Regions from separate parts of the Homo sapiens genome. Here region 2 is linked to region 1. A link means that fine-mapping ties the variant in region 1 to the expression of a gene that starts in the linked region. Tissue or cell type: cerebellar hemisphere. Region 1 holds a variant in brackets; the other region holds the start of a gene. All regions are shown on one strand. Distances are from middle to middle.

Region 1 (8,055 bases):
AAATTGAGTAATTCAGCTAATTAAAAGGTCTAAACCTCATCCCAGGTAATTGATTCACTAGAGAAAATGGAAGAAAGATGTGATATAGATAGCAATGCATTCTTGATACTCTTTTGGTCTCTTTTTATTGATTCAGCACATAGTTGTGAAATTCTAATCTGTCTGAGTCACCTGGCTCAGTGGGTTCTTCCTGAGTGCATGCACATATGTGTAGATTACATACATACAACTGTCACATCAGATTCCAACTATGAGAGTAGTACGAGGTTAATCAACTTGTATTCTTTCCTCTATTTTTATAAAAAGCCAGAGAAAACACTGGGAAAATGGCTAGGCAGGCCTGAGGTACAATGGGTTTATGACTCGTTCTTATATGTGTGTAACAGGGTCTCACTGTCACCCAGGCTGGTGTGGTCATAGGTCACTGCAGCTTCGACCTGCTGCGCTGAAGCCTCCTGAGTAGCTGGAACTATAGGTGTGCACCTCCACACCTGGCTTTTTTTTTTTTTAATTTTTTTTTTACAGAGATTGGGGTCTCACTTTGTTGCCCAGGCTGGTGTCAAACTCCTGGGCTCAAGTGATCCTCCAACTTCAGCCTCTCAAAGTGCTAGGATTACACATGTAAGCCACTGCACCTGGCCCCATTTTTTATATATACTGAGCAACTGGCTTCATAAGAAGAAAATCCAGGACCTTGTGTCCTGACCAAAATAAATTAATAACAAATTTTAAACCAGCAACACATTTTTTCTTTTTCAATGAATTACATGGACATTGATATATTCATTATTTCATTTTTATCCTTGTTTTTAACCTTTACTTATTTCTTTTTTTAAGCTTTATTGGGGGTATAACTAATATATAAAATTGTACATATCTAATGTATACAATTTGATGAGTTTGGATATATGCTGTCTGTGATCTCATCACCACAATCAAGATATTAAATATATCCATCACCTCCCAAAGTTTCCTTGTGTTCGTGTGTATATGTGTGTGTGCATGTGTGCATGTATGTATATATGTGTGTATGTGTGAGCGTGTGTGTATATGTGTATGTGCGTGTGTGTATATATGTGTGTATGTGTGTTGACGTATGTATATATGTGTGTATGTTTGTAGTAAGAACACTTAGCATAAGATCTATCCTCTGAACATATTTTCAAGTGTTAACTATCTGCACTATGCTGTACAGTAGTTCTCTAGGACTTACACATCTTGCATGACTGAAACTTTATATCCATTTTCTTTTTCTTTTTTAGGAATTTCAAAATGCTGTATTTGTATTCATTTCTAAGTACCTGGATGATGCCATACTCCAACTTTATGCGGTAATAAAAAAGAACCCATCCAGATATCTGTTCCATCAGTGAAGGCCATTTGATAAAAAAAAGTTCATATCAGTCATACCGGTAAGAGAAATACTGGTATATAAGGAGATAAGTGAAAGAAAGTATTTATAAAACAAGAAAATCTGTCATGAACTTGAGCAGACTTCAGCACACACTGTGTCATGCTAATTTGTGATGAAATATAATAGAAATTTTAAGGCAAAGGACAAAGTAATTTGATCCAGGTCTTGTGTTCGAATGTTCCCTGATCGATGCAACAGAAAAAAAATATTAAACACTAATCAAGGAAATTTGTTTAGGTGTGTGATAATGATATTGTAATTATGTTTTGATTTACTTTTATTTTTATTGAAGTATATTTGACAACTGTATATATTTAAGGTATACAATTTGATCATTTGATGTACAGATACATTGTGAAATAATCACCACAAACATGTTAATTAACATATCCATCATCTCACATAGTTACCTTTTTTCTTTTTGGGTGAGAAGCTTAAGATCTGTCCTCTTAGCAAATTTGAAGTATACAGTAAGGTATCATTAACCATAGTCACTTTGCTGTGCATTAGGCTTCCAGGTTGTATTCATCTTGCTAACTGAAATTTGTGCCCCTTGACCAACATTTTCCCATTTCCCCCAATAACAAATATTTCATTTTTTAATCAACAAATTTGAACATGTTTTATGTTGCAATTAGAAACAATTGAAACAAAAGCCCTCCTCTCTGGGGCTCTGGTCTGAGAGACAGAATATAAAAGTTACAATGTCACATAAGGAGAACAGCATGAAATCTGTAGTGCAGCCTGGATTTCGGACATCTTGGTATTCAATTTCTCATGCCAGGCATTTGGCACTGCTGGGTGTTTGCTACACCTGAACTCAATTCTTGTCACCATCTTCCTGGACTCTGAAACTTGTTCCTCCTTGGTGAGTTCAAAGACAACCCTTTCTTTGAGGCCTTCCCTCATCCTTCTTCCTTTATCAACTCCATGTTACCCTCAACTTTTCTCAAGACAAAATCAGTCATTCCCTTCCCTGAGCTCCCCAAATACTTAGAACGCACCTCTGAATAGCGGCGCCCCATTTTAAGACAGGTGTGGCTTATGTTTGTTCCTCTGATTTGACTACGACCTCTGGGAAGGCAGGGTCCAGCCACTCCATGCGCTTGCAGATCCTCTGGTCCTCCATGGGTACTCAAATACATGTCCTGGGTTGTGCTGACTCAAACAGGAGGAGAGACATCGCCCCCAGGCTGCTGCGCACCCTGTGTCTGCCCCAGCTCGCCTGCTCCCTGTCTCTCTCAGGCACCACTGGGTGGTTTTGTAGCAAGGAATAATAACAGGCAGCCCTCTTGTGGATGAGCCTGAGATTAACCAGTTCTTTTTTTGTGAAAGTTAGGTAAGGTGTGATCATACAATGCCTTGACCTGCTCCACTTCCCCAGGACTGTCCCACCTTTGTGTTTCAGGTATTTCAGCACTGACGCCTCACAAGAACATGGGATGTCACCCTCAAAGCCTGTATCTGTGAGCTTGGCAGGTTTCTGAGCTTTAAGACAAATAAAATGTTTTGGCCACAAGCACATATTTATGTGGTCTGGCCCAGCTGTGATATTGGGTAAACAGCAACTTTGGTGATGAGTCAGTCCATGGACCTGTCCCATGCATGATGCGAACCTGTGCCATGCATGCAGTGAACCTGCACAATGCACTACATGAATCTGTGTGATGCATGAAGTGAAACTGTGCAGTGCTGATGTGAATCTGTGCAATGCATGGAGTGAACCCGTGCAACGCATTATGTGAATCTGTGTAATGCATGCATGGAGTGGACCTGTGCCATGCATGGTGTGGACCTGTGCCATGCACGAAGTTCCATGTGTTTTTAAACCCAGCTCCAGCCAAAGTTATGTGTTATAAATTATTCCAGATTAAATTGAAATAAATATCAAATGTCAACAGAGAACCCCATCCACTGGACCAAACCTTCCCTAAAACACAACATAGATGAGTTCCAATGTGTTCTGTCAGCCTCATAACTACCCCTGTCAGGTAATTTATAATGCAATTCAAGAAGCTGTGTGCCGTTTCCTTACCTTTTAGGCCTCTTTTTCCCCTTTGGAATATCTCACCTTTTTAAACCACAGGAATAAAACTATGGTTAGAAATGATTAAATTTTAACTTACACATTCTGAGCATGGCTCAGTGTGTAAAGGAAAATCGCTTCACATTTTGGGCAGTAAAGCGAATCTGAAGTATGTCACACGAGTAATTGTCTCCTAGGAGACCCAAGCGCACATCATTGCCATGGAGACCACCTCGGTAGGCCCTCTCTGCTTGAAATGATTAGCATGGATCATCAGCTGGGGTTTGTTTTCGGGGAGGAAAGGCTATAAATACATGGCCAAGCCTTACAAACTATGACAAGTCGTGTGCTCGAGCATGGGCTTGGGATGCAGAGATTTCCAAGTCCAGCTCTGGCATCGCAGGGGAGGACCTCATGGACTGTATCCCTAACACACC[G/A]CTTGCACGTGAGAACAGACAGGAGCAGTCAGCACCAGGGGAGAGGGCAGGCAGCCAGCGATCCAGGAGGGGGGCTCCTCCGAAAGCCAGGCTGGGGAAGACTCTCCCCAGAAGCAGCCAGCAGCCGTTCCCTCGTTTGCCTTGCCTGACCTATGCCTCTCCCTGAGTGTTTCCAAAGGGCGGCAGCCGCAGGAGAGGGCCAGTGTTCCCGAGTTGGCTAGAGGAAGAAAAAAGCGTGCCATGGGAAAAATCTATTCTGTTAGCAATTTTGAAATATACGATACATTACTATTAACTGTGGTCACCATGCAAAGCAATAGATTACTAATGCTTACTCGTCCAGTCTAACTGGAGCTTTGTACACTCGGGTCAGCATCTCTTCTCATCCCCCTCCGTCCCCCCAGCCTATGGTAATCACCTTTCTACTCTCCGCTTCCATGAGTTGAGTCTTTTCAGATTGCGTATTTAAGTGAGATTATATAGTATTTGTTTTTCTTTGCCTGGCTCTTTTCACTTAAAATAATGCCTCCAGTTCTATCCCTGTTGCCACGAATGACAGAATTTCCTTCCCTTTTAACGCTGTACGTAATCCATTGTAAGGTGGTGAGGTGATATCTTAATTAGTTTGACTGAATATTTTTAAAATGTATACATAGATCAAAATAGATACAATTAGTATTTGTCAATTAAATTAATTTTAAAAGGAAGACAAAAATGCACAGTGTTCTGTTTTTCACCTAGATTCCCTGAAACTCATTTTTGACATAATAGCAGCAAAATTGCCATGAGAACAGCTTTAGCCATCATGTTCATTGCTGTACCCAGCTACTGAACCCCTCCTGTTTCAGAAACAGGTGCAGCGCTAGGTGCTGGCGCTGTGAGCTCAGGAGCCGGGGGAGGCTCCACCTCTACCCTCAGCCAGTGGCTTTTGTTTCAGGGATTGCCAGTGCATGTGGCACACCCAGCTGCATAGAGAGAATGGGAGAGGTCAAGGAAATATTTTGAAGACGTGGTTCACTAACAGCCAGAGGATGAAAAGGAAAAGGAAAAAAATGGCTGAAAAGATAAGTGTCAGAGTGTTGCTCACTCTGTGGCAGGTGGGCCTATGAAATCCTCTTGACTGGGACTTAAGTTTTATACACAACACTGGGAAACGTGTTTTCTGAGAACGCTGTTTTAACTGATGGGAGTCTGGAGGTGATGATATCTGAACATCATGCTTTTTAACCCTCTTATATTTTATTTATTAAGTGAAGTCTTAATATTTCTTCCACTTTTCTTGGGCTCCTAAGAGCACTTTTCCAAGCGTGCAGGGCTCTGCTCTTTGAGAGCTCTGATGTTGGCCACTCCCCCGTGGCACTCTGCAGGCTGTTACAGCCACGCTGATTCCACGGCATTTAGTGAGTGCTGGTTTCCATTAGTGGGCCTGACTTCTCGGGGGTCAGTGGTGCAGACAACTGCTTCGCAGCTGGCTTGGAGGCTCCTGGTGGGAAAGGCCTGGGTGTGACTTAACTTCGTGCACTTCTTTGATTCATTCATCCATGCAAAAAACAGTCCACCAAGCACTGAAGTGTCAAGCATTGGATGAGACTGGCAGCTCCCTGGGAGAGAGGCAGCAAAGTCAAGGAGCAAATGATCTGAGGCACAGGGCAGATAGCCGGCTGCACTCTGGCCATGACGCTGAGAGAGACACTGCTAGAGCAGGGGGCCTGTCACAGCTGGACATTCAGGGAGAGCTGCACTGAAGGACAGCAGGCATTTAGCCCTGCAAAGAGACGAGGGAAAACCCCAAAGCATCCAGTCTAGGGGAAGAGACAGTGGAAAGCCCAGGGGCGACATGGGTGGGGACTGTCCTAGAACTCCAGGCAGGCCAGCATGGCAGAGGTTAGTAAGGGAAAGTGTGGGCGGGTCCCACGTCATAAGACCTGCTTGCGGGCTTTGATGGCAATCTGTGTGGAACGCAGAGCCCCTGAAGGGCCTTCAGCACGGGATCATGGTGGCACTGGAGTTTCCAAAAAGGCACTTTTTTGAAGAGGTTGGAGGGAGGTGGGAATCGAACCCGTTCAGAAGAGATGGCTGTGGCTTGACTGCGGTTGCGCTAGGCTATGGGATATCCTTCCTTGGTGCAGCTGTAATCAGGCCCCAGAAATCGGGAGAAGATGGTTAGAACGCAGGCAAAAGTGGCATCATCATCACACCAACCACTTTGGGTTACTGGCTTTGAGGAAGCCAGGATCTCTGAAACTGGGAAAGAGTATTACCGAGGAGCACTCCTATGCCCCTATAAACTCATGTGCTGCAAATTGGTCACCAGTGTGCCCTAAGCATGTATCCCCTCATCGTTCAGGAAGATGCGGGTGAGGGGTGTCTGCGGCTGCTTCAGCCCCCTCCTCTACCATTAGACACAAGCAGCCTCGTCCATCCAGCCCAGCGTGCTGCACAAATGCATCTCCTGCTGTAAGTGCATGATGGGAGAAAAGCCAGGAACACAGAAGAATCTGCCCAAAATGGTTTTTGAAGTCTGTCCTCAGGAGATAATCTCAGGGACGTAAGAGGGTTCCATGTGCAAATAAGTTACGGAACCTTTGGCAGAATGCTGCACGCTACATCTTCTGTTCACCTTTGGGGATTTATAATGCAGCAGCTTACCAGTGACTCAGAAGAGGCCCTCAGTGAGAAGCCCATTTCCAATGTCCTTTAACTTAAGATTTCTCAGACATATTTGACCATGGGGCAAGGTTCTTTTTAAACATAATACCTATTAATATTTCATAGTGGAAACATTAAGAAATGCCATCATAAACTGGGCGCAGTGGCACACACCTGTAATTCCAGCTACTCTCAAGGCTGAGGTAGGAGGATTGCTTGAGGCTCGGAGTTCAAGGCTAGCCTCAGCAACATAGCAAGACTCTGTCTCTAAAAATAAAAAATAATTTAGAAAAAGAAATGTCATTATGGGTTTTCCTAGATTAAGATGGGTGGAGGGCTTTTGAAGGAGTAGAACAGAGAAAACTGGAATCACTGAAAAAAAATGAAGCAGCCAGGATGAATGCTTATACAAAATCTGCATGTATAAACAGATTCATTCCTTTAAATATATGCATTTTCAAAGCACGTTCACTCCTGATGCCTTTTATTCTCACAAGTGTGAGGCAGGTGGTGTTGGGGCTCAGAAACTAGTAACCCTAGTAACCCAAAATACATGCTGATATGCTGAACTGAGGAAGCCTCAAGGACTCTCACCTTAACCCCCTCCGCAACGGTCTCCACCAAGGAAGCTGAATTCCTTTATCTGCGTAAGATCCAGACCCACCAAGGAGAACAAGTATCTTTCCTTCCCCTCCCTGTTATCTCATTTTCTGTTGCAGAAAAGAGGACCAAGATGTGACCACACCTGAACGCACCCTTTTAGGAATATAATGACTATCTCCAAGGGTCATTTAAATACCAGACAGAACTATTTACAAGTTAATCTTCTTTCCTGGATTCAGTCAGTCTCCCTAGCAATTATTTATTACAGCCCAATAGAATTCCTCCTCTCTCCACTGCCATAAGCTGTTTTATCAGGATCCAAGCCCCCTTTTTGGAACTATCCCCACAGGGTTGACAATAATTGCATTACAAGTTCTAGGCCGGGCAAGGTGGCTCACACCTGTAATCCCAGCACTTTGGGAGGCCGAGGCAGGCAGATGATGAGGTCAGGAGATCCAGACCATCCTGGCTAACACGGTGAAACCTTATCTCTACTAAAAATACAAAAAGATTAGCGGGCGTGGTGGCGGGCACCTGTAGTCCCAGCTGCTGGGGAGGCTGAGGCAGGAGAATGGCGTGAACCTGGGAGGCGGAGTTTGCAGTGAGCAGAGATTGCGCCACTGCACTCCAGCCTGGGCAACAGAGCGAGACTCTGTCTCAAAAAACAAAAACAAAACAAAAAAAGAATTGCATTACAGATTCTAGACAGAAATATGGTTTTTGTCCTGCAAAAGGAAAATAAAATCTCAGGACTCCAAACTCACTATGCCTAAAGGAAATGTTAAACTTGGAAACTGAGTCATGAAAAAAAAATCTGCCTTTGCTTTTGTTCCTAAGCCAAGTTTTCCTCAGGTGGCCTCCCTTGCTTTGACAATGTAAATTAACAGTTTATCCTCATGGGTACGGGATAAGATGAGACTAGAAAT
Region 2 (6,415 bases), 690 kb before region 1:
ATGAAAAAAAAGGTTAGAGTTGGTATGCGGATACTAAAGGCTAAAATGAAAGAGGGGTTACTGGAAATGATAGTGCCAGAACCTCAGGGGTGTCTTTCAGATCTTCAGGCACCTGTGGTTTATGGTGTCTGCACCTGCATTCAGATGGTCACAGTTCTAGGGCCTTGGCTCAGGCCAGGACCATTGTGAGTCCTTTTCAATGCCAAGTAGCATAGGCCTGGCTTTCAAGGCAACTTTGATTGCATAATGGAACCGTGGAGGGCAACTGAAATGTTGGCACTGCCTTGTCTAACAAGCAGTGACTGTCCTTCATGCATGTGAACTCCTGAATCTTGTTTTAACCTGAGTAGGAAGAATCACAGCTGACTCGGATATCATCTTCAGCTTCCATTTCTGAAAACATAATCTGCCTTTTTTTCTCTGACTCACTTCAGAGACCCCACGTGAGGAGCAGCCTTGCTCAGGAAGAAAGCGTGGGTCAGGGCAATGACTTCATTTATTTACAACAAGTGAAGGGCTTGGGACTGCAATGGTGGCAGGCGAGGACTTGCTCAATGGATGTGCTGCTCCCGTAACATGTCTGAAAGGCACCAGTGTCCCTAACATCATAAAATAAAAGCACAGATGGTAACTTACCCAAAGTGACTGGATAAGTTCATGGAAATACAAAAGAGAAGGAGGTTTTTGATCATGATAAAACCAGAGAACATTCCATTGTCCATTCCCAATAAGAATAGTAGTTGAAGCAGGTGAATATGGAGGAATAACTCTTCCCTTCTCCAGCTTGTTCTTGAAGCTGAAAAGCACACAAAGCGGGGAAGCACGTGAACATCAATGCTGTTGTGTCACAGTTCCTGGAATCAAATCACACTGCTATCACAACAATTTGCAAAGAAAGGAGCCCGCTGTCCTTCCCCAGGACAGCTGCACACCAGGTATTTTCCATCACCCTCACTGGGCAGTAAGTTGGAGCATAAAAATAAGTAACAAGAGGCTTATTTTTACTTCTACTCAGGGTGCAGAATCACCCTAATTCGTTGTTTTCCACTCAAATACTCTGTTTTGTTTTTTAGCATGTTATCAAATAAACCATTAGTCCAATTATTAAAATAAACGCTGTAGTTATCTGAGCGACTGTATTTTGTATCCGTCAAATCCACAAGTGTAGTAATTTTACCTTTCTGAAATATCTGCCACGCCACGCGTTCAAAGCCAGCAAGCTACTCCTCTCTCTGCAAGGCACTGAGAAAGTACGTGGAAAGAAGTGGGGAAAAGCACATTTAAGAAACAGGTTTTCTGCAGGATCACAATACTGTGACAACTGCCTATAAAAGAGTGTGGCTACTTTCCCGGCATTCGGTCCCCGTGACTACATAACTTAAGCACTGCATCTGTGGAAGTCTCTCCACTCAATGCTGGACCCTAATTAATGTATTTGAGATCCAGGCAGACATTGTCCCTGGGCTCAACGACTAACCTTCCTGAAAACACGCATTTCTCAGTATGCGCATAACGCAAATAGGTGCTCACAGGCATCCGAACAGTATGCTTCGAAAAGAAGCATTTTCCCAAGAAGCCCCCCCAACCCCCATCCCCCGCAAACTCCGGAATTGGGAGACACAACAGGTACTTCCACCTCGGAAGCGAAGGCCTTCTGCGACTCCTGCCAAGAAGGGCAGGGTGCCATGCGGTGGTCGCCTGGGCGCGTCCGGGGGGCTCGTCGCGGGGCCCGGGCCAGAGCCAGGCGGCGAGCACGCGGCGCTGCATGCGGGAAACCCGGGCGGCGCCTCCCGCCGCCCCTCAGCCCCGAGCCAGGGACCCCCAGGAGAGGCTGCGCTCCCACGACCCTCCGGACCCCCACAGAGGCTCACCAGGGCCGGCGCGCCAGGGCAGGTGGGCGCGGGGGCTGCACTGCGGAGCCGCAGCCTGGGTCGCCCTGGCACCCGCGGTCGCCACCCGCGCGGTCCGCAGCGGCACGCCGAGGGTCTCCAGCTCCCCGGCCCTCCCCGGCTCGCTCCCGGCTTTCGCAGACTTCCCCTGCTCCTGCCCCGGGTACGAGCCAAGCGCTCCGCCAGGCAGCGCCTTCCTCCTGGGCTGGGAGCGCGCGGTGCAGCAGCGACTCCAAGTCCCCTGGCCTCGAGCAGCCCGCGCGACACGCGCGCGACACCCCCGCGGGGTCCGAGTCCACCCCGCGAGCAGCGCCGGGACGCCGCGCGCCTCAGAGCCCCGGGGCTGACGCTGGCTTTCCAGGTGGGCGATCTCACCCCTCCGGCTCCCGTGATGGTGGCAACGGGTGTCCCCCACCCCCAACCGGTCACCGCGCCCTGGTGCCCCGTCCGGCAGGGATGAGCCGCCCGGACCCCGCTCTCTCCCGCGCCCGGCTTCAGCCCCGCAGTCGCCAGGGTAAAGTTTGCGCTCTGGCCTGGCTGCGCGCCCCGCCTGCTCTGCACCTCTCCTCCCCGGCCACGCAGCCTGCCGCTCAGGCGCCCCGAGGAGAAGGGTGCGGACCGAGCCGGGGCGGCCGGTCCTCTTCCCCGCTCGCGTCCTCTTACCCCACTGCCCCGGCCCAGCGCGCCCAGGGCTCACCCTGCGCGCCGGCCCCGGGAGGCGAGCCGTCGGTGAGGATGCATCCTCCTTCTCCTCCGCCTGCTCTCGCCCGGCTGGCAGGCGCGGAAGGCCGGTGCGGCGTCACCGCCCCATGCTGCCAGCGCGAACTTCCCCGGCACTCCCGGCGGAGCGGCTCTTGCGCCCCGCGCTCCCGCCGCCGCCCTGCAGCTCCGCTCCGCGCCGCGCCCCGGGCCGCGCGCCGCCCGCCGCAGAGCCCCCCAGCGCCCCCGGCGCACTCGCGCCCGCTCTCACCTCGCCCGAGCGCCACATGTCGTCTCTGGGCTGGAGGATCGGCCCTCTGCAGAGGTGCTCCGGTAGAGGCCGCCAGACGCTCAGCAAATGCGCCCTTGGCCGAGCTGGGCGGAGGGGGAGGGCGCAGGGCCCCCGGCTCGGCCTGCAAGGGGAGAGGCCCTGTTCTGCTGAAGTTTCTCCAGGGCCCTCAACAGCATCTTCGGCGCCTCGTGTAGTCACCACCGCCCGCTTGTAGAGCAGGGATGGGAGGGCAGTGTCAGCAGTCGGGTGATAGAGGCCTGGACTCCGACAGCTTTGCTCCCTAGAGCCGGCCCCAACGCCTCCCTGCCCAGGCCTGGGTCCTTCCCGGGTGCTCCATGGCACCCCTTACATGCGCATCTCTTAGGCGCTTCTGAAAGAAGCTGGCCTGTGGACATTCTTTTCATCTCACTCATAGACAGGAATGCATAACTACGGGAGGGAAAGCCAGGGTCACATTGGACTCGATTAGAATGAAATCCTTACCTAACGCAGTGTATATCTGGGGGTTTTCTGAAGTTCCATTTCTTGACAACAAGCCGCAGTGGCAAACGGGAAAGGGCCAGGAGCCCTGGGGGCTGCAGGTCGGAGAGCGCCTCTGGGGTGACGGGGCGGGATCTCCCCAGCAGGGCTTCCGAGCCACGTCGGGTCACTGCCTCATTAGCCACGTACATGGGGTCTTACTATGGTCATTACGTCGGTGTGTCGTCCGTCCTAGTGGTGCAGTTCCTGGGAGGTGAGGGTGGCATTAATGACAACTGCGCGGCAGCAGGGCCCCTTCAAACAACACAAGTAAGAGCGCATCGTCTTGGGTTTGCCAGGTCTTGCTTCCTCAGGAGGTGGGGGACTCTCGACTATAACACCCAGTGGAAAACGTTCAAGACTCAAAGGAAAGCCACTGAAAACGTGATGGGGAGGTTTACTTACACCATTGTCCCATTCCTTTTGTGAAACTGCATTATTCATAATCTCTTTTAACAGAATAATGGTAAGTAAAGGCAAATTCCTAACTCCCCTCCAGGAAAGATCTTTGACCTTCCAGTGTAGGAAGCCTCTCATTTTTCCAGTTATCTCTAATACAGTGTATTCCAAATCTAAGTTACCTGTTAATACTTCTGCACATTCCAGAAATTCTGAAATTTTCTGAAAAACAAAACTTGTAAATCTATTCCAGGAATAGGACATAAATATACATAAATGTGCAAATATACAGGAAGTGTTTCTCTGAATATACATTTAGCCACACTATTAAATAACTGTTTCCAGTGGTTCTTCAGGAAATATGAATGAAATAAGATGCTAATTTGAATTTTCTAATTCTAAAATGGATCACTGAACGTATGCATTTCTTCATTTTCTAATTTCCCAAAAGATGTACCACTAGGGTGAAATTCCTTGGGAGACATTAAATTTTAAAAAGTTAACAACATGGTTTTATGATCAGCCTAATATAATTTTCACCTATTAGGTGTTGGAATTCTAACACCTAATACCAGCGACAGCTGCTCTTCTCTCAGGATTAAACAGCATAATGCAAATCAAAGAGTTGGAAGAATTGGTAAATTTTAAACTTCACAGCTTGTCACACAAAGTCATTCGGTGTGAGTTTGCAAAAATAAATGTATATAAACAAGGGATGATTTTTGTATTAGCGAGGGTTATAGACATTAATTCTTAATAATAAAAGAAATGTCAGCTGTAAGGAAATATGTTCTTTTGATGGATTATGTTTAAAACTTCCACTTTTTTTGGTACACTTTCTATCAGCTTTATGTCCACACAACACATATTATTGAATATATAAAAATCATTTTAAGTTAGAGTCATTCTTTAACATTGTATTTCAGCATGTTGCTTAAATTCTTTTCTCTTCCCTGTAATGAAACGGTATGCCACTCTCTCTCCTCCTAGTGTTTATGTAACATAACATAGCCTCACTTTAGATGGACTGCCCTGAGGGGACAGTGAAATCGTAAGGCCCATCAGAACCTTACAGAAACTCACATTGCTAGAAGAGTGCTTACTACCATTTCAATGATTTTTGTTTTACTATAGAATTCTGTATTTGTGCTGAGAAATAATAGGCTATCCGTTGAATTCCCATTTGTTTCATTAGCATTTTCTCTTCATTGAATGAAATTAAGCAATGTCGTGATCGTTGTGGAAGACAGTAGAGGGCACCCTAGTTCCACACAACCTCAGCCTTGGCCCGGGCTTCATAAGAATTTCATTTCCAGTGTCAGAGCCTAAAATAGCTGAAGGTGGGGAAGCTGGGCCATGAGTAGAACACGTGTTCACAGAGCACCCACCCTGTACCCCGGTCAGGGGCAGGAACTGAGACAGTGGCTGTGTTTGCGTGGTTGGGTGTGGTAAATGTGGCTGAGACATGAACACAGTGCCATGGTATAAGTGAGATCATGTGCTATTTGTCTTTCTGTGCTTGGCTTATTTCACCAAGCATGTTCTCCAGGTTCATCCATGTGGTCAAAAATGGCAGGATTTCCTTCTTTGTTAGGGCTAAATAATATACTGTCGTATATGTATGTTATACATATACGTGTGTGTGTGTGTGTGTGTGCGTGTGTGTGTGTACGTATCTCACAGTTTCTTTATTCATTTATCCATTGGCAGATGCTTAGGTTGTTCCATTATTTGGCTATTGTAAAAAATGCCAAAATGAACATGACAGTTCAGATCTCTCTTTCAGATACTGATTTTATTTCCTTTGACTATATCCCCAGAAAGGGGGTTACTGGGTATATAGTGGTTGCCACGGGCTGGGAGAAGGAGAGACGGGGAGATGTGGGTCAAAGGGTACAAAATTTCAGTTATGCAAGATGAATAAGTTCTGGGGATCTACTATACAACATTGTGACTACAGCTAACAACACTGCGATATATACTTCACACTTGCTAAGAGGGTAGATCTTATGGGTTCTCATCACACACACAAAAGAGGGCAGCTCTGCGAGGTGATGGAAATGTGAGTGCATGTGATTGTGGTGGTGAAGTATACATGTATCAGTCATCAAGCTGAACACCTCAGAAACCAGATTTTACATCAATGAATGGATGAATGAACAGATCTACATTTCTGGATTTAAAAAAATAAAAAGAGAAGACACCCCACAGCTTTAAAAACATGGGGCATCCGTTCCCACCCTCCTGCATCACCTCCATTCTACTGACACCTGACATGGGTCCTTAGAAGAACATGGTCTATTCTTTTTCACACTTTGCCTCCTTTATGTAACTAGGAAAATAGAGGCATATGGGGCTTTTAAAATGATACTAAATTTTTTTCTAATTTCATTGTATCTATTTTATCTTCTTTAGTGTTTTATTTATCATATCTCTATTTTGCCATATTTCATTTTATTTTGTGATGGCTCTAGGGTTTACAGCAGGCATCTTTAACTCATCATAACCTATCTTTTTTCTCTTTTCTTTTCTTTTTTTTTTTTTTTTTTTTTGCGACAGAGTCTTGCTCTCTTGCCCAGATTGGAATGTAGTGGTAAAATCTCAGCTCACTGCAACC

Alleles and levels. Alleles are on the strand shown, and positions count from the first base shown. SD is a standard deviation of normalised expression in the study named.
For the expression in cerebellar hemisphere of the gene that starts at base 2,909 in region 2, A is the high allele of the variant in region 1 and G is the other (large effect, 0.78 SD a copy in GTEx).

Evidence for each region. PIP is the estimated chance that this variant, and not a neighbour inherited with it, causes the effect.
Region 2: GABRA5 starts here. The variant in region 1 is fine-mapped to the expression of GABRA5 in cerebellar hemisphere (GTEx, PIP above 0.99).

Annotation. Positions count from the first base shown.
Region 1 is chr15:26,174,723-26,182,777 of GRCh38, reverse strand. No RefSeq gene overlaps it. Among named protein-coding and RNA genes, the nearest start is that of LINC00929, 63 kb to the right of the region's middle. RefSeq lists enhancers at 5,035-5,534, 5,535-6,036. The variant G/A (reference allele first, on the strand shown) is at 3,878.
Region 2 is chr15:26,863,556-26,869,970 of GRCh38, reverse strand. It overlaps GABRA5 (gamma-aminobutyric acid type A receptor subunit alpha5), which reads right to left and starts at 2,909. Exons shown (of 11, transcript NM_000810.4): 1 at 2,860-2,909; 2 at 1,178-1,242; 3 at 637-796. The coding sequence starts at 722.